Homo sapiens: one gene and its partners. The protein of the gene in region 1 interacts with the protein of each later gene in a pairwise test. Each region holds a gene or a part of one and is shown in the gene's direction. Other genes may lie near its edges. The genes, in order: TBC1D21, PDCD2, SEPTIN2 and GAS2.

Region 1 (7,026 bases):
GCCGAAGCAGTGACTTTTTATAAACAAATTCAACCACGGCAAAGTAGGCAGATGGCCAATTGTTACAGGTAGAGGTTTAGAAATGCAAATTCTCTGAATACTCAACAGATGTCTTCTTGTGATGTTTCTAATTATTTCTGCCTTATTGCGTTGATGCTGTATCTTTTGTTACGGTGTGCGGTGCATATTACTTTAATTTCAATATTACCTCTCCATTGTGTTTGACTTTTTTTCGTATCTTTGTTCGTCATTTATTTTTTAATCATTGTAGGGCATTTGATTTTAAGGTATTTCTTTTGTTCACAGCTTGTGTAAGATACATATTTTTTATTTGAGTGGAAAATCCTTGCCTTTTAATTCCTTCCCACTGCCCCTCCCACCCCCAGCATGGCATTAGGGTTAAGCCTCTGACTGTTGCATCAAACAGCTTAGGGTTCAAACTCCAGCTCTGATACTTTCTGTATCTAATCTCAGATATGCTAATTAACCCTCCTGTGGTCTCAGTTCCCTGATCTGTAAAACAGTACAAGAACTTTACCACTTCATAGATATTTGCGAAGATTAAATGGGTTGATATATGTAAAGTGCTTAGAACAGTGTCTGGCACATCATCAATTGCTTTTTAATGTTTACAGCTAATAAGAGAATGAAATGCATTTATTTTCATAATTAATTGCTTTGGGTTTCTATCATTTTTATGCTTTATACTTTTATTAATTCCTTGTTGTTTCCTATATTGCTTGCTTTTATTTTTTAAAGTGAGTTGGAAGATGTCCTGTTCCTATAAATTCCTAATTTTTAAAGTAAAAAATAAAGCAATTTCTTTTGACTCCATCCTAATATCTAATAAAGAAATAGAATCTGCAATTAAAAACTTTCCCACAAAGAAAACTTTAGCCCAGATGGCTTCACTGGTTCTACCAAATATTTTAAAAAGAAATAATACCAATTCTATACAAACACTTCCAGAAAACTAAAAAAAAAAAAAAAAAAAAAAAAAAAAAAAAAAAAGAAATCCCTACTCATTTTATGAGGCCAACATTACCCTGATACCAAAATTAGAGATCTTACAAGAAAAGAAACTCACAGGCAAATGATTCTTGTGAACATGGATGCAAAAATTCTAAATAAAATTTTAGCAAATAGAATACAACAATGTATAAAAAGCATAGTATATCATCACCAAGTGGGGCTTATCCCAGGAATGTGAGGCTTACTTACCATTCAAAAGTACTCAATATAATTTACCATACTAACAAACTCAAAAAAAGAAAACCATATGACCATTTCAACAGATGCAGAACATTATTTGACAAAATCCAACATCCATTCCTAATTAAAAACTCTCAGCATGCTAGAACTGGAAGGGACTGTCTTCAACCTGATAAAAGGCATCTGTAGAAAGCCTAGAGTTCACATCATACTGAACTGTGAAAGCCTGAATGCTGCTCCTCTAAGATGAGGAACAAAGCAAGAATGTCTTCTCTCACCACGTTTATTCAACATTGCACTTGAGTTCTAGCCAGTGCAGTAAAACAAGAAAAAATAAATAAAAGGTATTCATACTTGAAAGGAAGAAGTTAAACTGCCTTTACTCACAGATGAACATGCTCATCTATGTCAGAGTTGGCAAATTTTTTCTGCAAAGGTCACAATAGAATTTTTGGCTTTATGTCCACGCAGTCTCTGTTGCAACTACTCAACTCTGCCATCATAGCATGAAAACAGCCACAGACAAAAATGAGTGGGTGTGGCTGTATCCTAATAAAACTTTATTTAGAAAAACAGATTGGAGGCCACATTTGATCCATGGATCATAATTTGCTGACCCCTGGTCTATGTCAAAAATCCCATGGAATCCACAAGAAAGCCACTACGACTACTAAGTGAGTTTTACTAGGTTGCAGGAATACAAGATTGATATATAGAAGTACATTGTATTTCTATTAGAAATTTAAATTTTAAAATGATACTTTTTACAGTAGCATCTGAAATATGAAATACTTATGGATAAACTTGACAAAATATATGAATGACCTAGACACTGAAAACTACAAGACACTGCTGAGAGAAATTTTAAAAGACCTACATAAACAGAGAAATATATTGTGTTCACAGGTCAGAGGACTCAATAATGTCATCAATTCTCCCAAACTGGCTTACAGATTCAATACAGTCTCCACCAAAATCACAGCTGCCTTTATTATAGAAATGGACAAATTGACTAAAATCCTTATGGAAATGCATTTCTAAAGTTAAAGCATTTCCTTTTATAGTTAAGGATCCCGGGACACAGCCCAGCTTTGCCTGTTCCCTTCTGCTTCCTGCCACATTGCATGCTGAGTGTTGCAGTTTCTGAATGAGTGTAGGTTGGGAGAACATGATGACAATCAGAGGGGCAGAAAGCTTGCTCTGATGAGTGGCAGTGTCTATGCAGGTGGGGAACACATCAGGGCAGACCCTGCTTCCCAGGGTTAGGCCCACACCGAGATTTGTAACTTCTTGGCCCATGTGTCCTATTTTGGTTCAGATGACAGGGCATACATGAGTTATTAAAAATGTGTTTCTCAATCCATTTCCATCAAATATACAGTTAGTAGAAATTATCCCAATTTGGAGCCTGTAGGCTCTTATTTTTAGTTAACAATGCTGCTTTGCCTTCATTTATTTATTTATCTATTTATTTGAGAAGGAGCCTTGCTCTGTCACCCAGGCTGGAGTGCAGTGCCATGATCTTGGCTCACTGCAATCTCCGCCTCCCAGGTTCAAGCGATTCTTCTGCTTCAGCCTCCTGAGTAGCTGGGATTACAGGCACCCCGCCACCACACCCAGCTAATTTTTGTTTTTTGTTTTTTTTTAGTAGATATGGGGTTTTATCATGTTGGCCAGGCTGGTCTCGAACTCCTGACCTCAAGTGATCTGCCAGCTTGGGCCTTCCAAAGTGCTGGGATTACAGGCGTGAGCCACCATGCCTGGCCTGTTTTGCCTTCTAATACTTTACTACTCATGTGGTTTGTGGACTAGCAGCATCACCTGTTACTCAGGAGCTTGTTAGAAATGCATCATCTTGGGCCCCACCCCAAACCCTCTGAATCAACTCTGCACCTGCAGAAGATCCTTAAGTGATTTGTACGCCAATTTAATTTTGAGTCACATATTCAGATGTATACTAATGGGAAGTTGGGAGTGTGTATATTTACATGTCTACTCAGCTCTGTCCATCAGCACATCTTTATGTCTGCAATGTGGCATTTCAAGATATTCTTCTCTCCAGCAGAAGAGAGTATCCCAGGAAGAAAGGAATCTTCTCTTATTCCAACAGGAACCCTCACTCCTGTTGTTGTTGTTGTTGTTGTTGTTGTTGTTAGAGATATTATTATTATTATGTGCTCTGTTGCCCAGGCTGGAGTGCAGTGGTGAGATCTCGGCTGACTGCAACCTCTGCCTACCGGGTTCACGTAGTTCTCCTGCCTCAGCCTCCAGAGTAGCTGGGATTACCGGCATGCGCCACCATGCCTAGCTAATTTTTGTATTTTTAGTAGAGACAGGGTTTCACCATGTTGCCCCAGGCTGGTCTCGAACTGACCTCAAGTGATCCACCTGCCTTGGCCTCCCAAAGTGCTGGGATTACAAGCATGAGCCACTGCACCTGACCCTAGTTATTATTTTATAAGCATTTTGAATTACTTTGCATGCAGTGCACTCACCTCTCTCCAACACATACACACACACATGTTCACATACACATAGCACACAGATATATACCACACACACACACACACACACACACCCTTATCAAAAGCAGAGACTATCTCTCATAATGAACCATTCTACATTTCCAGGAAAGGTAAAGTGGAGCTCATAACTGTGTCTAATTAATGCTTATTTTATATTTTCCTGTGATCAAAGCAGTGTACATTATTATAGAAAATTTTAAAAATACAAGAAAGGCCAGGTGCGGTGACTAACGCCTGTAGTCCCAGCACTTTGGGAGGCTGAGGCAGGTGGATCACCTGAGGCCAAGAGATCAAGACCATCCTGGCCGACATGGTGAAACCCCCTCTCTACTAAAAATACAAAAATTAGTTGGGTGTGGTGGCGCGTGCCTATAGTCCCAGCTACTCAGGAAGCTGAAGCAGGAGAATCGCTTGAACCTGGGAGGCAGAGGTTGCAGTGAGCCGAGATCCACCACTGCACTCCAGCCTGGCGACAGAGTGAGACTCCGTCTCGAAAAATAAAAAATACAAGAAAAAGGATAAAAAGTACTTATTTCCTATCACTCAGAGATAATCACTGCTGTTTTTAGTGGGGGAGAGGAACTTTTTTGTATTTTCTCAGTCTTTTTCTAACAACTTTATAGTAGTCAATGCATTATATATTAGAGTTTATGTGGGGTATTATTATAATATATAACGGACACAATACATAGGTATTACTATGAGGGCCATAGTTGTACTATATAGTACATAGAGAAAATGCTAGATATACAATTCTGTATTCTGCTTTTTTCTGTTAACATTTGTATTTTTTCTGATTATTATTCATTCCTTGTAAACAACACTTATATGCCTCAAAATATTCCATTAAGCACATAAACCACAGTTTACTTAACTACCCCCTTATTGCAGAACATTTAGAGTGCTTGCATTTTTCATGTTGGTGAGTAATGTGCATGAAAATTATTGTGCATACAGGATTTTTTCTATATATTTTCAGTAATGTCCTCAAGATAGATTTCCGAAGTAAGTCAGGCTGTGCGCTTTGATACATATTGCAAAGTCCAGAACATATTATTTAAAATCACACTTAAAAGCCGAAGCCTTCTAACATAAGGCAGAACTGGTTGCTGCTTTTGCCAGGTGAAGAGAAAACCACCCATTGACAAGACAGAATGGGACAGCTTCTTTGATGAGAGTGGCCACTTGGCCAAATCACGGGACTTCATTTGTGTTAACATCCTGGAAAGGGTGGGTCCCCAAGCTACCCTTGGCCTTGCCCTGGAACTGGGAGCATGGATGGGCAGGGGGCAGGTGTGGCGTTGGATGAAGCCCTTTTGGTAGGCATCGATAGAGCCCATGACCTCCACCTCCCACCCCCACCCCAGGGTCTGCACCCCTTCGTGAGGACTGAAGCCTGGAAATTCCTCACGGGCTACTTCTCATGGCAGAGTTCCCAGGATGAGCGGCTCACGGTGGACAGCATGAGGAGGTAGAACACTCCAGACCCTGCTGGGACAGGAGGGGGGCCTGCAGGTGGCAGGTGCTGCCTCCCCAGCCTGCAGACTATCTTCTGCCCCCATGCAACTTCTTATTCCGAGAGGAACCCCATGCCTCCTGACCCAGGCACAGCACACAGGAGGTGCGGCCAGTTCGTGCCAGTGCCTTCTCTCCCTGAGCTCCATTTACCAGCCCATCAACTGCCAGGCATGGGCTTGGTCCCAGCCACTCCTCTTACCCCTGGGCCCCAAGTCCCATCCTTCCTTATGGCCTATGCATTCTTCCTCTGAAGCAGCCCTTGAACAGAGTCTGCCACCCTCTTCCCTGGGTGCCACCCCAACTCCACCTCCTCCCTGCCCCCCATGGCTGAGCTGCCTCCCGGGTCTAGTCTCCCCACTCCCTGCCTGTGCCCACTGTTTCCTCCCGGTGCCCAGGGGAAGGTACAAAACCCAGTATGGGCTGCCTGTGTCCTTAGATGAAACACTCCCAGTGGTGTAACTGGTAACGTTTCAAATAGCACATCTTCTCTTCCAAAAACTTCCTGATCCTAGCTCCACATCGCCCACTATCCCAGAGCCTGACATTCCAACCACACTGACAGCCTCACTGACTCCTCATCTGCCCACTCCTGCCCCAGCACAGACCACGTTTGCACTCCCCTCTGTCCTTGGTTCACCCTTTCTCCTCCCTCCACAATGGCTTTCTATCATCTGCCTATCAGTAGCCCACCCTTCCTTCAAGGCCCAGATCCCACAGTATACCTACTCCAAGCAGCCCTCCCAGATCTCCCAAGGGAGCCAGGGATGAGGCACTTTGTTTCAGTAGATAACACACCATCTTTGAACTTGGACCGTCTTGGATTTGGAAACCGGGTTCAAATTTCAGCACTCTGATTTACACCCTGGGTAAACTTGCCCATGAACTTCAGTGCTGAAGTCTCAGTCTCCTCCTCTATAAAATGCAGGTAACAATCTATTTCACAGAGTGGTTGTGGGGGCTCAATCAGATAATACAGGTAAGGCACCTTGCACAGGGGAGGAATCAGTAGCTTTTATGATTTTGATGGGAATCCTCCCTCCCTGAAGCCGGAGGCCCTTGACTTGCACTTCCATGACCCTGGGCACTTGGTCCCACAGTAGTGAGAACGGAGCCTGTGTCTTCCCTCCCAGGTTGAATGCAAACAAGGGCAGAGGCTGCAGCCAGTTTGCCTTTGTCTTGGGCCCTCTCCTGACCTTGCCTGTCCATGGGAGGGCTCCGTACACACTGGCTGAGTCAGACTGACTCCACTGCTGAAAATCTTCCCATCAGAGGAACGGACTCCTTTGGATTGTGGCTGCATGACTATGTAGCCTGGGCTGGACTCACCTGTCTGGGAGCCTGAAGCAGGGGCTAGGCCCAGCCCCAAGGGAGCATCCAGACAGAATGTGGAAAAGATTCACGTGTCGGGGCCAGCCAGAGTGACCCGGGGTGGGACGGGGGTGTGAGGGCTGGGCTAGGGAGCTCAGAGAGGTTCAGGAGCTCTGACAAGAGCCCACCTGTGTTCATTTCCTGAGGCTGCCTTAGCAAGTACCACAAACTGGGTGGCTTCCGACAACAGAAACCTGTCTTCTCGCAGTTCTGGAGCCAGAAGCCCAAAATCAAGGTGTTGGCTCCTTCCAAAGGCTCTAGGGTAGAACCCTTCCTTACCTCCCAGCTTGTGTGGCTCCCGGTGTTCCTCAGCTGGTGGCTGCCTCACTCCATTCCCTGTCCCCATGGTGGTGAGACCTTCTGCTTTCTGTGTGTTATAAGAACACATGTCATTGGATTTGGG
Region 2 (7,568 bases), on another chromosome or scaffold:
TTCTCCTGCCTCAGCCTCCCAAGTAGCTGGGAGTACAGGTGCGCACCACCATGCCTGGCTATTTTTTGTATTTTTAGTAGAGACAGGGTTTCACCATGTTGGTCAGGCTATCTGCAGCTTTTAACAATTGAGTAACACATACTCCTATGAACAAAATTTGGAGCACATTTGGTTCTCTCTACCCGATTTCTCCAGAATTTGGAAACTGTAAGTATTCTTAACTTATGACAATACAGTTATTTGCATAAGTGCACTAATAATCTGTTTTCATTTGTAACAGGACACAATTGGGGAAACTGGTTGTTTACCAATGCTTTTACTTGACTTACGGAGCCAATTAAACCCCCTTGGAAAAACCGTCCTCATAACTTTGTCTACACAGCTCCTGTACAGGGTTCCTGACCTGTGGTAAGTAAAGAATGTCACTTTCTGACAGGCCCAGGAGCCTCAAGTTTATCTTGGAACCTCAAGAGGAGAGGATCACCAAACTCACAGGTATTTGATGGCACAAATCCATGGCTGGGCTCAGCTTTTAAAAAGTCTTATCTGAAATACCCTCTATGGAACAAAGTTCCATCAAAGCCAATTTAAAAGCCAATGTTAAAAAATAATTATTCTTGCTGCACTGTATACAAATAATTCGGCCAAATATAATAAGGCAAACCTATCATGATTTGTCTTTAGTATAAATGGGAAACTAGAGACTGGAAAACTATAGTCCACCAGTTGTTAGATTCTAGTCTTGCCTAATGTTTTTCAATTTTTATCATTTTCTACAGTTTGGACCAAATTCTAATTTTTGTGGGCTACAAGTCTTCAAAATAATGTTTTCAATTTTTTTCCTTCTTTTTTTCCCCATTTTTCCTAATTTGGAGTCACTTAAAACTAAGCTGTCACTAAACTAAGTCACTTAAAACTAACTTTCGTGAAGCCCTGTGAACTGAAGTAGACAACTTAAACTTCAGAAGAAAATAATGGGAACCTATTTACATACATAAGCCACTTTCATACCTGCTTACTGATGTATGGACTTCAGAGTAATGTGGCCTAGATCAATTTTCCAAGATTGTTCTTATTGTTCTCCCTTCCTCCCCAAATTTTCTCTTGATAGGATATTAGACTTCACAACCTTCTAAAAATGAGCTTTCCTAATAACTCAGGACCTACCCTTCTAGGAAAAAACCATCCTAGCCATGAGAGAGCAGATAAAACCTGGGAACAGAAACTTATTTTCTTCAAAAATGCTTTCTCCAAAATATTTTAAAAAAGAAAAGGGGGGAAATGTGAAAGGAAATTACCTTGGAATCCCATAATCACTAAGCTAATGGGAAAAGTCAAGCTGGGAACTGCTTAGGGCAAACCTGCTTCCCATTCCATTCAGTCATCCCTCTGCTCACTGAGATAAATGCATGTCTGACTGCCTCTTTTAGAAAGGTGAATCAGAAACTCAAAAGAGTGCAACCATTTGTCTCTCACCTACCTGTGACCTGGAAGCCCCTCCCCACTTCGAGTTGTCCCATTTTTTCTTTGAGTTGTCCCACCTTTCCTGACCAATATTCATTTTACATATGTTGATTGATGTCTTATATCTCCCTAAAATGTATAAAACCACCCTGTGCTCTGACTATCTTAGGTACATGTCGTCAGGACCTCCTGAGGCTGTCATAATCGTGTGTCCTTGACCTTCGCAAGATAAATTTTCTAAATTAACTGAGACCTGTCTCCAATTTTTGGGGTTCATACAGGTTAAATTGTAAAAGATCTGTGTCAGAGGAGGAAGTCCATTCAGAGGGTTGGGGGGCCTTATTTTATTTTTGGTTTATAGGATTCTGACCCTTTTTATTATTTCAAGTTGGCAATGAAAAAAACAGCAAAAGTATATAGGACTAAGGATTCTAGGCTGGGTACAGTAATTCACACCTATAATCCCAGCACTTTGGGAGGCCAAGGTGGGAGGATTGCTTAAGCCCAGGAGTTTGAGGCCAACCGGGGCAACATATGAGACCTCGTCTCAAAGAAAAAAAAAATATGTAGAAAACTAGAGAGGATAAATTAAAATTCCAATAAGAAAAATATATTAACCTGGAAACCTACAGGAAATGGGTGATTGCCTAATAAAAATACACATGAACAAAAGGAATCCTAAAATAAGAAACATACAAATAGGCCAGTTAGTATAGAAAAGCTTGGAATGATGCTTAGACATCTCTCACTGGAAAAGACCCCAGGGACATACAGATTCAGAGTTAAGTTTTAACTGAACTTGGTTAAATTTGTTGACCTTCAGCAAATCCTGATTTTATTTAAAATGGTCAAGGCCTAGTTGAGGGAAGGGGAAAGAAGTGATTTTCTTCAATTACTTTTACGGTATAATTTCTGTGAAAGGAAAATAAAACTCAGGACCACAAAATCACTAAACCAAAGGGTAAAGTCAAGCTGGAAACTATGTCAGGCAAACCTGCCTCCCATTCTATTCCTAAATAAGATAGCTGCCAAGATAAGAGGCTACGTACCTCCCTTAAAATTTGCCCACAAGGAAATTCCTTGTGGATAAAGGACAGACAGAACTCAAAGTTATCCCTTTAAGGTGCGCCTGAGACAAATGCATATCTAATTGCTTCCCCTCCCCTATTGTTTACGTAAAAATGATAATTCACTGAGCCAGACTAAATTGTGTATTCAGTGGAAGGCTGATCAAGGACTCAAAAAAATGCGATCTTTTGCCTCTTATCTACTCATGACCTGGAAGCCCTCACCTCAAGTCCCGCTTTACCTGACTAAAGTACATCTTACACATACTGATTGATGTCTCATGTCTCCCTAACATGTATAAAAGCAAGCTGTACCCTGACCACCAAGGGCACATGGTCATCAGGGCCTTCTGAGGCTGTGTCACGGGTGCAACCTTAATCTTGGTGAAATAAACTTTCTAAATTGATGGATGCCGGATGTGGTGGCTCATGCCTGTAATCCCAGCACTTTGGGAAGCTGAGACGGACAGATCAACTGAGGTCAGGAATTCGAGACAAGCCTGGCCAACATGGTGAAACTCTGTCTCTACCAAAGATACGAAAATTAGCTGGTTGTATTGGCACACACCTATAATTCCAGCTGCTCAGGAGGCTGAGGCAAGAGGATCGCTTGCCTGGGAGGCGAAGGTTGCAGTGAGCCGAGATCATGCCACTGCACTCCTCCAGCCTGGGTGACAGAGCAAGATGCCATCTCAAAAAAGAAAAAAAAAAATTGATGGAGAGTTAACTTTTGGTTTACAATGTAAATGTTTATTTAAAAACAGACATTATTTTATGTACCATTACAAATATACTGCTACCCAGCTGCTCGGGAGGCTGAGGCAGGAGAATGCTTGAACTCGGGAGGCGGAGGTTGCAGTGAGCCGAGATCGCACCATTGCTCTCCAGCCTGGGCGACAGAGCGAGACTCCATCTCAAATAAAACAAAAACAAACAAATATACTGCCAACTAAACTGTGATTTTGTCAAAAATAAATGTTGTTGATGACTTTACTTCCATTAAAGCCACTGTAGTAGCCAAGGGAAAGCTTCCTTTTTGTCCTCTGAAGGTTCACTGAAAAGTCAACTGACAAAAGGCACATTAATTGGAGAAAGGGCATACAAATTTATTAACATGCACATGGGGGAGAACCAGAGTGATTTTGCTGAAGCCCCAAATGGGGTTCAGAAACTTATATACCATCTTGAGGTTACAGAATGGGGGTTTGGATTGTGGCATAACAGGTTATGCGGGTGGAGACCTGGCTGACAACCACGGTCTTGTTATGTAAATGAAACCTCCTAAGTAGAACTCCTTAAAGAGAACAGGTGGTACATGTTTCTTTCAGACCTTTGCAAACCAACAGTAAAATTCTAAACCCTCCAACCGACTGATGGACCCTCTGCTTGCCCAAGGGCATTCTGAAGTTAACCTGAAAAACTAGTTCAGGCAATGATGGGAAGTGGGGGTTGGCCATGCCTCATTATACACTCCTCCCTTGGAATTCAGGTACAGCAAGCCAGCACTAACATTAAAACAGAGACCTTAAGACTGACAGAAAAGACTCTTCTGCAGAGGCTTCTTCATTACTCTCAGGCACACAGGATTCTTGGTTTCCGCTGTAGGGTCCTCACTTTACCTGTTCAACCTTCATTTGTCTTTCACTGCCTACTCTTGGTTAGCACTCGGCCAGCGCACAGGTTTCCCACACCCTGAGGTGGACACCAGCAGGGAAGGTTTGCGGGAGGGCTCTGCCTCCCTGGCGGCCACCCGCAGGCCCACAGCAAGACATGTGCAGAGGTGAGCGGAGCGCCGTCACCAGCTGCCACTCTCCCAAAGACCAGAACCATCCCAGAGCACCCGGAGGCACCAGGAAAGCGGCTCGGAGGCAGAGGCGCCAGGGGCGGGGCTGATGCCGAGAGGTTTCCTCTGCCCCGTTCCCTCGCATTGGTCCTGCAACCGCTCCCGTCAGACGCGTTTCCGCCTCCTGTCCTCCGGAAAGGTGCCCGCCTCTTGCCTTCCGGCCCGGCGCCCGATTTCCGCCTTCCGACCCAGCTGTGGGCTGCGCCCCACGCCAGCCCGCGCCCCGCATGGCTGCCGCCGGGGCCAGGCCTGTGGAGCTGGGCTTCGCCGAGTCGGCGCCGGCGTGGCGACTGCGCAGCGAGCAGTTCCCCAGCAAGGTGGGCGGGCGGCCGGCATGGCTGGGCGCGGCCGGGCTGCCGGGGCCCCAGGCCCTGGCCTGCGAGCTGTGCGGCCGCCCGCTCTCCTTCCTGCTGCAGGTGTATGCGCCGCTGCCTGGCCGCCCGGACGCCTTCCACCGCTGCATCTTCCTCTTCTGCTGCCGCGAGCAGCCGTGCTGTGCCGGCCTGCGAGGTGAGCCGCCAAACGGGGTCGGGACGGGGCCATGCCTCCGACGCGTGCGCGGCGTTAATTCCGGGAGCGACCAGGGGGACGGCGGCAAGCACCGCTGCCGCCCCAGCCTCAGAGCTCCCTCTCCGCGCTGCCCCAGGAGCACCTTCTCCCGGGCCCTTCCAGGATGTGCTCATTTTTGCTACATAAGCTTCTAACTGTGCCCACGCGCATTGGTAACCCCCAGCTTTTAATCAGTGGGTACCAGGTATGGTGTTAATTCAGATAATAGAAATTGTCTTGGAAAGATGGATCCCAGTAGCTTTTTCGTATTTTTGGCAGTCGTTCTTAACGATCAGTCTTATTAATTTGATTAACTCAAACCACCTCTAGGAGGCAACTCAGTTGCGTGTACCGGACGAAATCTAGTTTCTGGATTTTAAAAGCTTATTCCTGAAAGCAAAAACTTTCATTTCTTTTTTGTTGTTGTTATTTTCAGTTTTACGTGCAGAGGATAAAATATGTGAATTGCTGTTTTGTTTGAAGATAAAACTTTTCTCTGTATTCTTTTTTAGTTTTTAGGAATCAACTACCCAGGAAAAACGATTTTTACTCATATGAGCCACCTTCTGAGAATCCTCCCCCAGAAACAGGAGAATCAGTGTGTCTCCAGCTTAAGTCTGGTGCTCATCTCTGCAGGGTTTGTGGCTGTTTAGGCCCCAAAACGTGCTCCAGATGCCACAAAGCATATTACTGCAGCAAGGAGCATCAGACCCTAGACTGGAGATTGGGACATAAGCAGGCTTGTGCACAACCAGGTGGGTAATCTTTTTTTTAAGTCTCAGTTCAGTTTCATCGCCTTTGTCAACCCAGATATTTCCAGGACAACTTTAAAGGTAAAATTAGGAAAGGTATAGTACTTTAAAATTTTTCATGCCTGGAACACCTTTGTAAAAAAAAAAAAAAGGCTGTGAAGTCTGAATCACTGAATAATGTCACCATATAGGCATTTAATTTATGACCCTTTATCTAAAATGCCAGAACTATAGGGAATATAGTACTTTAGAGACAGCAAATTATTAGACTGTCTTCAAAACTAAATGATTACTAATAGTGCTGTCCTTTTTGTTTCAGATCATCTGGACCATATAATTCCAGACCACAACTTCCTTTTTCCAGAATTTGAAATTGTAATAGAAACAGAAGATGAGATTATGCCTGAGGTTGTGGAAAAGGAAGATTACTCAGAGATTATAGGGAGCATGGGTAAGCAGTTTCAGGACTTCATTCATTAAGTGGTTAAACATAATACTTGGAAGAAAGGGCTCCATGTGCCTAGAAGAGAGGTACTGAGAGGAAGACTCACTTTGGAGGCTGTAGCATACAATTTTCAGATATTGCCTCAGGTAAAAATATACTTCCTGGACTTTGTTTTCTGACACATAAGAGGTGTGTTCTGCTCCCTGTAAAGACAAGGGTGGGTATCCAGATGGTCCCATGAGTAGGGCTGCACAAGATGCTGGAGGCTTGGTAAGTTCCTCTGGGTCGCAGATCGGTTTCTCGGGTCGGGATAGTGTGAGTGCCTAGCACAGTGTCGGGCACGCAGAAGGGCCCCTTAAAAGTTTCTCTTTCATCTGGCCAGTTTTAGATACACAATTTTGTCAGTTTACTTACAGTGCATACTCTTGGGTAGTACTTGTGCTGACCAAGTATCTTAGAGGCTTATTTTATTATAGTAGCCAACATTTATCCAGCACTTACCTTATATAAAGGGCTGTTTGTGCATGAGCTCATTAAAATCGTGACAGCAGACCAATGAGTGAGAAACTGCCCCATTTTGAAGGTGAGGAAATTGAGGTTCTGGGTATAACTTTCTTTGGTCACATAATATTAAATTTTACAATTTGAGCCTTGAGCCATACACAAAACCACCACAAAATTAGATTTATAGACTCAAAATGAAAACATCAGCTTACTGGTTTGTAGTTCATACCAGTCATACATTCCAAAACATGTTTTGAGTCTTACTCTGTGCCTGACCTTGTGCTTGATAACAGGGATATAATGGGAAGCAACACTCCAGTGGTCAGATGCTCACAGTCTTATGGAGGAGCCCAAATAATATCTGGGGAAGTTAAAGTCCATATAATGACTGATAAGAGTACAATACAGGTGCCATGGGAACACGTGACATCACTGAAGACTGCCTGGAAGGGGCCGCGCGTGTGTTCATGCCTATACGATAAACATGATACATAATGAAAATGCTTATCTTTAGGAGAAAGGAGAGCCTAGAGTAGCAGGATCAAGGATGAAAGCTGGACTTCAAATATGCCTTGTTAGTGTAAATGTGACTGTGGAACTGTATGAGTATTTTAAGATTATGGAGTAAAGTAAGTTTTAAAAAGCAGTCCCTAATCATCAAAAGTAAAAAACTCTTGATGTAGTCATATAACCACACTAAGAACTCTTCCAGGTGACTTCAAAACATAGGACAGTACATCTCTAGTAGAATATGCCCTGAGAATGAAAAGAATGTAACAGTGTTAGTATTTTGAATAAACATGTTATTACTAGACTGTTGCTTTTATTTTGAGATGGTTGTGTGTGTATTGGGGGGAAAGGAAACGAGTAATTATGTTGGTGTTACTGAGAACTGAGATGTTGGGCGTAGGAGGAAGATAATGTTGATTGTGTCTACGTACCAT
Region 3 (7,026 bases), on another chromosome or scaffold:
GGCCAGGATGGTCTCAATCTTTTGACCTCGTGATATGCCCGTCTTGGCCTCCCAAAATGCTGGGATTACAGGCATGAGCTACCGCACCCAGCCGAGTATTTGTATTTTCTGTGTATTCAGTCCAATCAGCAAAAAAGTGTTTTCTTTTGATTTTCTTGTTTCATTATATTCAGTAAACTCACCAAGGTAGTATTAAATAATCATGGTGAAATTGCAATATCTGGATCTTACTTGGATCTTGATTCACATGAAAAAAATGAGAGAATAGAGAATATGAATACTGATTGGATATTTGATTGCATTAAAGAACTAGCTATGTGTAATGGTTTGTCATTTTTAGGAGCCCTTATTTTTAGATATGTGTAGTGGAATATAAATGAAATGTTACATCTCGTATTTGCTTCATAATCATCCAGGCAGTGGCATTGATGATTGTGGAAATAGATGAAACATTATTGACCTTCAGTTGCTAATTGTTGAAGCTGGATAATGGATAGCACATGGGGGTTTTGTTTGCTTTTTGTATAGGTCTTCATGTAAAAGTTTTCATGTAAGTGCTTAAAAATAATTATGGAAGGGCATTCCTGCCGAATTATCGGTTGTAATTTAAATAGATTTAATTTTCTATTGTTTAGAAAACAGTATTTGCCTTTGGTTTTCAGAAATATCCTGAATTAGATTTAAGCAGTTTTCCTTTTTTTCTTTTTTTGAGACAGTCTCACTCTGTCACCCAGGCTGGAGTGCAGCAGCACCATCTCGGCTCACTACAGCCTTCACCTCCTGGGCTCAAGGGATCCTCCCACCTCAGTCTCCCACTTAGCTGGGATTACGGGTGCCCGCCACCACACCCAGCTAATTTTTTTGTATTTTTTGTAGAGACAGTGTTTCACCATGTTGTCCAGACTGGTCTTGAACTCCTGAGCTCAAGCGCTCCTCCTGCCTCAGCTTCCCAAAGTGCTGGTATTACAGGCGTGAGCCACCACACTCTGCCAGCAGTTTTCTTACTGTTTTCATTATGATTGGTTGCTGAATTTCATATGCCTCATCAGCATCTATTAATGCATGATTTTTTTTCCCCTATACTGTGTTGTTGGATTAATATTGGTAGATGCTTTTGATACATTCCTGGAATCTAATTGCTAGCAAATATTGTATTCAGGATTTTTGCATTTATATTTGTGAGTGAGATTGGCCTATGGCGTTCATTCATTCCTTTGTTCCTTTCTTATGTCTCCATCTGGGTTTGTTATTAAAACTGTGCTGTCTTCATAAAACAAATTGTTTTCCCTTTTCTCTGTAGAGGCTTGGAATAGTTAAATGACTTTGGTCTTGTCCAAGGTTAGATGGAGTTCAACTCTAACGTCAAGTCTTGGTCCTTTTCATTGGTATGTCTTTAATCAGCTGCTTAGTGATACTTGTTTTAGTCAGATTTTCCAGTTTTTGGTTCTGTATTGGTAATTTACAGTGCCCATTTTTTCTGCATTTTCAGATTTGGGGCCATTTTGCTACATGTAGTCTTCTCTGTCATTATTTTAGCTACTTTTCTATATTTGCTATTTTTTCCTGAATTGGGCTTGTGAGGAATTTGTTTTAGAAAACCAGCTTTTGCGGCCAAGCACGGTGGCTCAGGCCGGTAATCCCAGCACTTTGGGAAACCAGGGTGGGAGGATCACCTGAGGTCAGGAAGTTTCACCTGGCCAGCATGGTGAGACCCCATCTCTACTAAAAATACTAAAATTAGCTGGGCGTGGTGGCGGGCACCTATAATCTCAGCTATTCCGGAGGCTGAGGCAGGAGAATTGCATGAATCCAGGAGGCAGAGGTTGTAGTGAGCTGAGATCGCGCCAGTGCACTCCAGCCTGGGCAACAAGAGCAAAACTCCATCTCAAAAAACAAAAAGAAAACCAGCTTTTGGATTTGTTTACCCTTCTTTTTCCCCCCCTCATAATTCATTTTTTCTCTTTATTGATTTCCTGTTTTATCTCCTAAGTTTTGCTTTTATCTTCCTTCCATTGCTTTCTAGAGATTGCTTATGGCTTTGCTTTTGTTACCCTCCTTGATCCTGGGGATATCCAGTAATGTAACAAATTACTGGGAGTTACTTTTCATCTTTTTCCACCCAATTTAAGCAGATAATTATTTGAGAACATTGACTGTAAAAATGTTTTTCAAATTTTGTTTAGGCTTTTTTTTATGGTAGATACATGACTTCAAACATTTTTTAAGGTATTGATTCAAATTTCTCTATGTCTGCTAAATCAGATGTATTTGTTGTATTACTCAGTTCTTCTCTGTCCTTGCACATACTGTGTTTACTGAATCTGTCCGGTTCTCAGAGAACTCTATTAAAGTTTCTCACTTGAATTTTTTTTTTTAAGTTTGTATTTTTCCTAGTCCTTGCTTTATGTGTTTATCTACAGTGATTATTTGAATATACAGGCTTATGAATATTACATCTTCCCTATAAATTGTTTCTTTTATCATTATAGCTTGTTATCCCTGTTATTCTGCTTATTTTTACTTTAATTCCCACCTTGGCTGATAGTAGTGTTGTCTCTCCTCCATGTTTGCACTAGCCTGCTATTTTTTACCTTGTCCCTTTATTTTCAGCCTCTCTTTGTTCCTTTTGCTTTAAGCATATACGTTATAGCTGGACGGTTTGTTGTTTTTGTTTTTTTTTTCCCTTGGTTTTTCAGGCCAATCTGTCTTCTCCTTTAAGCAGAGAATTTGGTTATTTCACATTTATACTGATAACTGATATTCTTGAATTTTGTCCCCATTGTCTTGATTTAGGATTACTTCTGATTTTGTTTCTTCTTGTTCCTTTTCCATATTTTTGCTGGTTTGATGAAGTTGCTGTTTCCTCCATATTTTTCTCTTAATTTGGAAGTTCTCATTGTTATTTTCTTTAATGATTACCTTTTTTTTTACTTTCATAATCAGATACTTATCTCTGTATTATTTGAAAACGAGATGCCAACTCCTTCTGCCAAAACTGTCTGTATTACATCTGACCCTTCTCTTTCCCTTTAGGAAGTTCTACTCCTCCACACTCACACTTGCTCTCAATTCTTAGGTTTTGCTGAAATTAAAGGCTCTTGAACCTTACTGCTACTATCCCTTGGTTAACCAAGCCAAATAACACTGGGGATGCAGGGATCTCATTTCTTCCAAAGTAGCTGGGAACATTTCCAGTCAAAAGGGAAACAGAGGACACAGTATTCAGGAAGTTAAGATTTGGGGGAGGGGAATCGAGAGGCAAAGTGAGAGAAGCTTTTTAATAAGTTTCTAAGCTCCAGAGGGAACCAAATTTGACAGCAGTCATCTTTCTTGGGGTTGTTACTGAAGGTTAGCCAACAGACTCCATGCTTTCCAAAGCTTCAGGGTTTCTAAAATTTGTTTAAAAATTCCACATATCTCTGGCTGGGCACAGTGGCTCACACCTGTAATCCCAGCACCTTGGGAGGCTGAGGCGGGCGGGTCATGAGGTCAGGAGATCGAGACCATCCTGGCTAACACAGTGAAACCCCATCTCTACTAAAAATTAAAAAAAAATTAGCCGGGCATGGTGGCGGGCGCCTGTAGTCCCAGCTACTCGGGAGGCTGAGGCAGGAGAAGGGCGTGAACCCAGGAGGTGGAGGTTGCAGTGAGCTGAGATCACCCACTGTACTTCAGCCCGGGAGACAATGCGAGACTCCGTCTCAAAAAAAAAAAAAGAAAAGAGAAAAAAAAATTCCACATATCTTTAAAAATATTGTCACATTTTTCAGACACTCAGATGCCTTCAGTACTATTTCCTTTCCTCATAAATGTAGTTCACATTGCTCTCTGTACCCCAGTGTCAAAATCTAGTTCTCAGGTAGCTCTAGGAAACTCCAGTGGGTGGCAAACATGTTCAAGTTACAGTGCTCTATGTAATGAAGTCCCTTACTCCTTGAAAGGTTTCAAAGAGAGAGGGGAAATGACATAATTCCAGAGGTCAGGGAAGTATGTATCCGTGTGTATCCCATTTGTGTCCCTAGTGTCTAACATATAGTCAGTACTGAAAAAAAATTTGAATATTATTGAAAATATGGAATATGTGCGTACATATATATATACAGTTGCTTTTATCAACTTAAAAATTTTTTTAATTTTTTAATTTTTTGTAGAGATAGGGTTTTGCTATGTTGCCCAGATTGGTGTTGAATTTTTGGCTTCAAGCAGTCCTGCCTCTGCTTCCCAAACTGCTGGGATTACAGGCGTCAGCCACTGCACCCAGCCACCATCTAATTTTTTTTTTTTTTTTAATGGAGTCTCACTCTGTTGCCCAGGTTGGAGTGCAGTGGCATGATCTCGGCTCACTGCAACCTCCGCCTCCCAGGTTCAAGCGATTCTCCTGTCTCAGCCTTCTGAGTAGCTGGGATCACAGGCACGCACCACCACGCCTGGCTGAATCAGTATTTTTAGTAGAGACGGGGTTTCACCATGTTGGCCAGGCTGGTCTTGAACTCCTGACCTCAAGCGCCACCATGCCTGGCTGAATCAGTATTTTTAGTAGAGATGGGGTTTCACCATGTTGGCCAGGCTGGTCTTGAACTCCTGACCTCAAGTGGTCTGCCTACCTCGGCCTCCCAAAGTGCTGGAATTACAGGCGTGAGCATCACGTCTGGCCTAATTTTTTTAATCGAATTTATTTTTGTAATGATAGATGCTTGTCTTATTCCTAGGGAAATATTTGAAGTAATTGAGATGCTGTCACCTAAAATAATCAAAAGGCTCCTGATTCAGTTAAAAGAATTCATTTAAGTACAGAGTGTAAGCGAGCTACACCAAAGAATGGTGATTAGCGCTCCCAGGGTGGGGAAAAATGAGGATTGTTTATATAGGCAAAATGGAGGTGCCAAACAGAATTATAACATTTTCGGAACTAAGGCTCATTTAAAGATACAAATTTGATTGGCTACTATTGATTACACTTGAAGGGATTTGTTTAACTTCCTTTTGTAAAGAAGTAACAGTCATAAGGATCTCTCATCTCCCAGTCATTTAGTCTAGTTTTGAATAAAGAATAGGGGGTCTGGTTAATATATACATCTAAACACAAAAGTCAGAAAGAATAAAAGTAGTGATGTTACACGAGCCAGCTGTCAGTGCTTAACTTTTCCCTTTGGCCTAATGCATTTGGAAGGTCCTGAAATTGTATTTTCTTTTTACATTGCCTATGTATGTGTAAGTCTTCTTCAGGTCAGTTCACGCTGTTAAATATACGTGCGTATACATACATACTATGTATGTGCGTTTATGTGTGTCTGTGTGTTTTTTTTTTAACAGACGAAGCTTCACAAAAGATGTCTAAGGTAAGATCATACTTCATGTATCTACAGCATAAGGAGAAATTGCTTTATGTTTTCAGACTGTTGACAGTCGGGACTTATATGATTCATTATTTTTAATACAACTGATACATTTGATTCATTAACACAAAGAGTTCTAATTTAGTTGTCTTTTTTTTTTTTTTTTTGAGACGGGAGTCTTGTTCTGTCACCAGGCTGGAGTGCAGTGGCATGATCTCAGCTCACTGCAACTTCTGCCTCCCACGTTCAAGCGATTCCCCTGGCTCAGCCTCCGGAGTAGCTGGGACTGCAGACACGTGCCACCACGCTGGCTAATTTTTTGGATTTTAGTAAATTCGGGGTTTCACCGTGTTGGCCAGGATGGCCTTGATCTGTTGACCTCGTGATCCACCCGCTTTGGCCCCCCGAAGTGTTGGGATTACAGGTGTGAGCCACCGTGCCTGGCCTAATTGTCATCTTAAAAGCTTGGAGCTTTCTCTTTTTTCAGGCTTCTACTTTCTTTTCTCTACACACATCAGTAACAGTCCTTTTGGCCCCCTTAGTTCATTCCCAGCAGACCAGATAATTTAGAATTCTGATAATTTATTATGATGAAATTGATGGGGCTCTTAGACTTGATAAATTGGTTTAAATCAGCCTTTGCAAGTTAGTTCAGAGATAAATTAGTGCTAAAGAACATATTCTGAGAAAAGCAGAACTTGTGGTTAACATTGCAAGATTATTATTTCTGTTTTTTTTTTATCTTTGAATCCTGTGGGTGTTCATTACTGTCCAATGCAAAATCATCATACCAGTTTTTGCATTTTATACCAGTGTTAGCATGGAACACAGATAAGCAAAAAAAAAAGTCATTATTTCACCACTCAGGAATAACCACTGTTAATATGTTACATATATTCTTTTTCACCTGTGTGTGCATTTGACTATACATTTACAAAATGTAATCCTAAAGGAAATACTATTTTGTATCTTGCCTTTTTCAATTAATAAATTGATTTTTAAAATTTCTTCTCATTTTCAGTATGCCACTGTCTAGATTCTGGTTACTTCTGCTATTCTTGCCTTCTCATATCTCTGTCCTCTCTCTCATCAGATACCCTTCTGTCAAGGAATATTGATGCTTCAGTGTAGTCATCTATGATCTTCTCATTCTGTCTTTTCTTTCTTGGTCTTTGACACTAGATACTCAACATCCCACCCCTAATTTGCCTGCCTCACCCTTGATGAAACTCTGTTCTATAGAGCTAGAAGCACAGCAAGAGAGATGCTTTTTTCCTCGATACTTTTCAGAAATGCATTGCACCTAATACCTGGGAGAAGCTATTCTTTAGCCAAGTTTGTTGAATGAAACCATTCATTCAAAGTACTGTCAGCTGTAGCAGTACTTTGTAAGCTTGACTGATTTTCCTGGAACTCCATAGTCTCTCAAGTCGAAATTTGAAATTGCATTAAGATGTATTAAGCATGTATCTTCTATGTATTGTTAAATTCCTAAACAGAATACTGATTAACAAAATGTTAATTTTCAGTCGCATACAACTAAGGAGTTATACTAGATAAGTTTTTCTTTTTTTAATGCTCCTAGTTGAATACTACTGGTTTTCTGATAGAAGTATGACCTTCTGGAAGTGTTTATACTTTTTAAAAAATTTGTGAAAACTGATAACCTATGTTTGTTTCATGTCTAACT
Region 4 (7,065 bases), on another chromosome or scaffold:
ACATTAAACATTTATATTATACTTGAGGTACTTGTGATTAAAGTAACATGACATAGACTTTTTTAAGATTTAGAAGCAAACTACAAGATAAAGAAAGAAAGAAAACTTAAAAAAAAAACACCTTCAACTTAGACAACAGACGTCACACCACAGAAGGTACTGCATAGGATATTTAAAACTAGATGAGGCAGGGTGTGGTGGCTCATGCCTCTAACCCAGAAACTTTGGAGGGTTGGGGTAGGGCATCATGTGAGGCCAGGAGTTTGAGACTAGCCTGGGCAACATAGTGGGACTGTGTCCCTGGGCAACATAGTGGGACCGTGTCTCTGCAAAAAAAAAAAAAATAAAAATAAAAAATTAGCCACAGTTGGTGGCTGTGTTAGTCTGTTTTCACTGTGCTATAAAGAACTACCTGAGACTGGGTCATTTATAAAGAAAAGAGGTTTAATTGACTCACAGTTCTGCATGGCTGGGGAGGCCTCAGGAAACTTACAATCATGGGGAAAGGCAAAGGGGCAGCACGGCATGTCTTACATGGCAGCAGGAGAGAGAGAAAGAGAGAGGGGAAGTGCCACCCTTTTAAAACCATTAGGTCTTGTGAGAACTCCCTCACTATCATGAGAACAGCATGCGGGAAACGGACCCCATGATCCAGTCACCTCCCACCAGGTCCCTCTCTCAACATTTGGGGATTACAATTCTAGATGAAATTTGAATGGGGACATAGAGCCAAACCATATCAGTGGTGCTCACTTGTGGTCCCACCTACCGTGACACTGAGATGGGAGGATAGCTAGAGCCTGAAGGTCAAGGCTGCAGTAAGCCATGGCAACGCCACTGCAATAGCCCTTCTCAAAAAAAAAAATAAAAAAATAAAAAATAAATGAATAAAAGTAGATAAGACAAATGGCATATTTCACAAAATGATTTTTAATCTATTTCTTATGTAAAAATTAGAAAACATATGCTTATACCTAACACAATTTGCCAGAAAAAAATGAGTCTTGCACAGGAGGGAATTAATATTTATGCTACTGTTGTGTTGTACTTAAAAAGTTTAAAGTTCTCCACTGAGAGTAAAGTAATAGATTTTTTAAATTGCATATTAGATGGAGAGTAAACCTTGAACTTTACATATGAAATTTCTTTGATTTATCCTTGTAGTTTTATATATGAATGGTGGTGAAAAGTAATAGCATTTATCGTTTAAAATTTCAGAAACAGTCTGTTTTTATTCGTAACACTATTTGTAATGACTATGCTAGGATTTATAAAATTTATTCTCTTTGCCTTATGACATTAAAAAACTATAATTCAAAATATGTCAATTGAAGGCCTTATATTATAGACTAAGATGCTAGGTTGGGAAAAATAAACATATTTGACCTCACTGAGGAAGTATGTCAACAAAATGTAAGTAAATGATTTAAGTTATTATTAAATATATGTCTTCATGTATTTTTTAATACCATTGCATGTCTTCATACTGCTTTCTGTATCATTATTCTCACTTGCTTCCCAAGCTGTCTTTTGTCATTTTTAACTGCTCCTTTGAAGCTGTTTAGGAATATAAGTCTTTCTTGGTCACTTCTGGAAATTTATTTTACCAAATTTAACCCAGTGGCTGTTTCCGTGTTATTTAATTTTTTCTCAAAGTGTCCTCTAACCTCAATCATTTATTGAAGGTTTGCTTCACTTTTCAGAGTGAGTACTACATATATTATTTTCATTTGGGAGAAGGACTAAGAGAGAAAAGGAGAGTTATCTACATAGGAGGGAAAAATAACGTGTTTTATTGATCATTTTTAAACTCAAAAAAGTATTTATTAGAGAAATGAGAAAATTCATGTTTGAGACAATGTTGAAAGTTTAGAATGTGGGACACACATAGTAATGCAGAAATTTCCCGTGTTAAAGTCCTCTAACTGTGATCACTTGAAAATAAAAACTAAACTGTTTAAATCTGGCTTGACTTCTTTTTAATGGTGTTAAGTTTCAAGGATGTATTTAAACATTTTTCATCTTATTGAAGTATTTGCTTCCTTTGCATTCACATTAGAGAAGCTATAGTTGCTTCAGTTGGACTACATTTTCCTAAGGTGAACAGTTTGGGTTGAGTCCACACTAAACTAAGAAAATACTTAGACAAAAGATTATCTTTGACAAATATATCAGTGAGTGATCAGAATATATAAATAGAAATATTGATTTTGAAAAACAAGATAAAAATCAAATGGGAATTTTTACATATGCTAAAAAAATTAAAATAAAAACACTGTATCCGTGTCTCTTCAGAAATCTTTTGTATTACTTCTCTTTTGTCACCAAAAAAAATATTCAGTACAACTCTTAGATGTTAATGAAAGAAAAAACACATTATTTATTTCTTCTCGTATTTTTCTTTTCGCTCTTTCTGAGAGACAGAGGATCTGACATAATGCAAAATTTAAGACAAAAAAAAAAATACCTGGAAGAAATGAGCATGGAGAGGGAGTAATTTTGAATGATTATGCTTTCCCAATTCCTCTGTAAGCCTCCTTTTTTTCCCCAAACTGTATTTAGCATTGTTCCTGAATCAACAAAAACATTGCCTTACTCTTAGCTTTTTATAACACCAATAATGAACAATGTGACAAGAATATTCATATCTGGGGAGAAATAGGATGTAAGATTTTGAAAGTTCAAGGTGCTAAATTTTTTGAACTCATTACATATTTGGATAATTCTTAAATTAGCATTTATTGGCTGATGATGTTTTGATCAGGAAAAATTATCAAGAACATTTGATTTTTTACTAAATTGTATGTGTTCAGACACTCAAAATTCTTTGTTGGGGCTCTAGGAATACTCAGATCTGATCACATTTTAAGAAATTTTATCATTCAGATTCGTTTACTAAAACTCATCAGTAATGAGTTCTGTATGTTTTGTTGTTATTTATGTTTATCCAAGCTGTTATGTTGACCTTTTAAAAATGCTGTTTCTCCTTAAAATTAAGAATAACTATTTTTCCCTTCTTTTAGAAAGCTAAGGAGGAAATGTGGACCTGATAGCTGCAAAAGCAAATTGAACTAAAATAAAAAGTTCGGAGTTCAAGGACTCCAAACTTTTCAATCGGTTTTCTCTTCTTCTTTATTAAATGTATTGCCACTAGAAGCAAATAACTGATGCAGTTTCTGCCAGATAATGGCAATAATAAAGGTGAAATGTGAATATTTTTTAAATTATATCTAAAATCATCCACATCATTTAGCTTGTGGATGTACAGGTAGTTTCTATTTGGGAGTGGGGCTAGGTAACTCATCATTATAAAAATGGTATCCAAGCAAGGATCACAATACCTGTACCACTGCCATTGTAAACATTGGATGGCAATATACATGAAACTGATGAACATGAGAACAAAACAAAATAAAAAGTGTAATACATTTTATTTATGCTCCATGGGAGGTGGTAACCTGTGGGGATCAGCACACTCAGCAAGCGGTCCCCGCGCATTAGAGGTGAATCAGACACTTGAACATCTGTCCACTTCATGGAAGACGTTTCATCTCAGAATACACGTACTAATAAACAACAGTTGGAGACAATTGTCTCTGACATTCAACATAATGCTGAGCTGAGGCTGAAAGAAGGAAGGGTGGAATTGTATTTCCTTTGGTAAAGCAAAAACAGCCGTGAGTACAGCCTCTTCTAAAAATCTGATATTTAAAGAGAATTGTAAGACATCAAAATGTTCAATTTGGAATGAAGAGTGGCCGAAGTTACTGGAAAGCTCGTGCCTCCGTCTGCAAAATCACTGGCCAGGAAAGCAAAAACTTTTCCAACACCCAATTTTAATATTGTGCTAAAGCTATTGACTCTGTTAAACCTCTAGAGTTAAATATGATCCCCTCCCCAGCCCCCACCTTTTCTCTCTTAGGTTAGTGTCTGGGGGACAAGGAGGGGGCTGGAGCTTGGCCCCAACCTCGGAATTGCTGCCAAGGGCTTGTAATACAATCTCTCCCCGTTTGAAGGGTAAATCAGTGTCAACTGCATTTGCGTCCACCAAAAAAAGTAAGCATTTTACTTCCGCTCGGTCTATGAGGACTGATGAAATGTAGGAAATCTGTTTCTGGCAGGGAGAAAAAATCGTTTTCCCAAACAGCACTAAAAGGAGCCATCAGAGAAGTATGAAGAGGGGTAGTGCGGCTGTAGCTGCTGCCGCTGCCGCCAGGCTGGTGGGGTGCGGGGAGCGGCTGCTGCAGGACCTGTGCCTGGAGGGGGCCGGCCCCGAGAAGCTGCAGGAGCCCAGCCCGGAGCCCAAGCGCCTCTGAGAGCCGCCAGCAGCCCAGCTCGGGACGCGGGGGTGAGCACGACTGGCTGGCCCAGTTCTGCGCCAACGCCGCCGCAGCGTGCGCGCACCGCAGCCGGGGCTCACGGGAGCCCCTGCCTGTCTACTGCACCCGGGGCGGCGGGGGAGGGGAGAGGTCATTAAAAAATAACCTCAGGAACGAGGCGGGGAAGAGTGAAGAGCCGCGGACAGTTGGACAGGCTCTTTCTCTAAGAGTGGGTATTCACTGCAGGGGGTGACTTTCTGATTCTCTGGAAACAACCATGTGTTCCTTATCCCTATTGCGGAACACCCCGGACAACCGCAGCACGTAAGCCCGCTGGGGTGGCTCTGCCAACCAGGGACAGAGTGAGGATTTTTAATGAACACATCGATTATAAATGCACACATATGCATTCGTGCACAAGAGTATCTGTAATGCATGCTCAGCATTGTCTGTTATGGTGGGGTGGGATAGAGCCAGAATGGTCTTAAAGGGCTGATCCTGAATGTTTTACTTGAGTCGTTGAGGCCAGGATGGGAGGAAAGAGCGCCACATGTGTGATCTGGGGTGATACTCACTGTGTCTGATGAGTTTGATGAAATTGAGTTTTATGTGAATAAACAAACGCTAGCCGATATATATCAACACACTTTGGGGAGATTTTGCGTGGTATCGTTCTTTTTGTTCAGTCCAAAGTTGAGACTGGAATCTGAAATTGTTTGGGGAACAAAGGAGGCAATTTTGCTTTGGAGACATTATTTATACTGGCAAAATTAAATTCTGTCAACTCAGTATGGTAAATTACCATTAACTTAGCCCAGGTATCCGAAGAAGTTTCCATTGTCTTGAATGAAGAGGGAGCAAAAGCGAGGGTTAACAGATTCTGTTTCTACATTCTAAAAACAATTGAGGTTGGGGGAGGGTTGTTAATTCTTTTCCCAGTTAACCTTTTTGAAATCACAGTCTTTACCCTCTCCATCTTCTTCATCTTCATCCTCTCACCTCCGTGATCTTCTTACAGTGAAGAGTTTGCAAAACTTTATTCTTATAAAATTATCTCCTCCAACCCTCTCCAACAAGGTTAGATCAGTTGTGTATGAGAGATCTTATGCCAAGGAAATAAGATCTGCTTGTGCACAGGAACACCCATTTGACATCCTAGTATTAAAATAAAGGCTTAGACAGTTTGGATGTACCAGCCTGGCAGAGGAAGTCCACTTTTCCTCCCCACGTATCCCCTGAGATTCACAGAGGCAAGGCAGAGAACAAGACCTGTGCTTCTTTACTCCAAACTCTTAGCAGTGTGGACACTGATTAACTGCAGCTGGGGTCTGATTTGCCCAGCCTGTCTTTGATATTGATCAATGAACTCCTTCTCAAGGAATGCTTTCCTCTAACTGCGGTGAAGGTGGTGGCTCTGGTGGTTCTCTCCAACATGGGTGTCTGGGTTTTGACTGCCTAAGAGAAGGTAAGGGACAGATGGATGAGGCATGGGACAGTGTGCCTTTGCAAAGCACATTGGAGACTTTGCACAGGGCTGCCTGAATGGTCCCTTACATGGAAAAGGTAGCTTGGATTTCAGCCTGAATGCTACTGAAGTTTGGGTTTATTTCATTACTTTATTGCTAAACACTATGCTGTGGTGTTATGGACTGTGCTTTACTGGGAAATAAGTTCACATGGCAAAAAAATATTTCACCAGGTGCAAAAGGTCATGTGATTGCCCTGGAATTTTTTAGCATCTTGGTTAGAAACTTCAGTTAAACCTCAAACTTTCGAGTATGGTGAAATACCTGGTCTTATATTAACCCTAAGTATGTTGTGTGTTACTTAGAAATCTTACTTCAAGACTGGAAGTCTGCATTGAAGACTCAGGGAAACTTTGGAAAACTAAGTTACCTTGGTTGAGAAGGCATGATGAGGCTGTAACTGTTTACAGAGAGACTTTTGTTTAAAACTGCAGGGCATGTTGTAAGGTTGGTTTGGTATCTTTGTGGTTTTGATATTAAGGTCCAAACAGGATCCAACTGTTTCTTTAAACCTGAGCAACTAGGAAGGTTTCCACTCAATGTTTTTTGACTAGAGAAATGAACTGGAGTAACAGTAGAAAATAATCTGCTGTCAAAATTAAGTAAGAGGCTTATGTAAGTTTCTGTATTAAATGTTTTCAGCATCAATACAATTAAAACTTTGCTAATTTTACTCCTTTATGTGAGACCATGTCACATATGTGTATATATTTCCACAGAATGTAGAACCCTGCTGGTTCTTAACTACATTATAGTTAACTAAAACAGAAATCTTTATATTAAAACAACAGAAAAGAATTTTCTCAACTTAGATAAAATTTTGATGTAAATCCTTAAATATTCTAGTTGTTAATATTGTTAACAATAGTCATTAGACTGTCATTAGACTGTCAGATGGTTTTCTATTTTAATTATGTTCCAAGCTAATCTGGTAGGGGTTAAAAAAACCTATGCTAAATTGTTTGGAAGGATGTTTTAGTATGATTTCTTTAAAACTTTAAAATATCCCTAACAACATGAAAATATAGAAAATCAATTCCCATTCAGGTTTTTTTAAATCATGATTTGAGAAGAAATTGTTATTTGTAACTACACCATCATTTCACCCAAGACAAATCAAGATGGGACTGTGGGATAAGAAAGAGATCTCTAAAAGAGAGTCAGCACTACACTAAATTAAGGATCACAAGAGCTGAGTAGGATACTTTTAATAATTATGA

The links.
Region 2: the proteins of TBC1D21 (region 1) and PDCD2 interact in binary tests that used the Homo sapiens proteins (3 or more experiments, as listed by UniProt).
Region 3: the proteins of TBC1D21 (region 1) and SEPTIN2 interact in binary tests that used the Homo sapiens proteins (3 or more experiments, as listed by UniProt).
Region 4: the proteins of TBC1D21 (region 1) and GAS2 interact in binary tests that used the Homo sapiens proteins (3 or more experiments, as listed by UniProt).

What each region holds. Positions count from the first base shown.
Region 1 is NC_000015.10:73,876,540-73,883,565, forward strand, and holds part of TBC1D21 (TBC1 domain family member 21), read left to right. Parts: intron 1-4,859; coding exon 4,860-4,967; intron 4,968-5,104; coding exon 5,105-5,208; intron 5,209-7,026. UniProt on the Homo sapiens protein: Acts as a GTPase-activating protein for Rab family protein(s). Essential for the establishment of male fertility, and is required for both the production of normal sperm number and sperm function.
Region 2 is NC_000006.12:170,581,615-170,589,182, reverse strand, and holds the start of PDCD2 (programmed cell death protein 2), read left to right. Parts: upstream 1-4,545; 5' UTR 4,546-4,601; coding exon 4,602-4,884; intron 4,885-5,435; coding exon 5,436-5,678; intron 5,679-5,994; coding exon 5,995-6,126; coding exon of another isoform or gene 6,127-6,155; exon of another isoform or gene 6,156-6,917; coding exon of another isoform or gene 6,918-6,925; exon of another isoform or gene 6,926-7,568.
Region 3 is NC_000002.12:241,318,903-241,325,928, forward strand, and holds part of SEPTIN2 (septin-2), read left to right. Parts: intron 1-1,300; exon of another isoform or gene 1,301-1,385; intron 1,386-5,313; coding exon of another isoform or gene 5,314-5,330; coding exon 5,331-5,339; intron 5,340-7,026.
Region 4 is NC_000011.10:22,662,552-22,669,616, forward strand, and holds the start of GAS2 (growth arrest-specific protein 2), read left to right. Parts: upstream 1-4,059; 5' UTR 4,060-4,348; exon of another isoform or gene 4,349-4,643; intron 4,644-5,556; exon of another isoform or gene 5,557-5,784; intron 5,785-6,144; exon of another isoform or gene 6,145-6,292; intron 6,293-7,065. UniProt on the Homo sapiens protein: Required to maintain microtubule bundles in inner ear supporting cells, affording them with mechanical stiffness to transmit sound energy through the cochlea.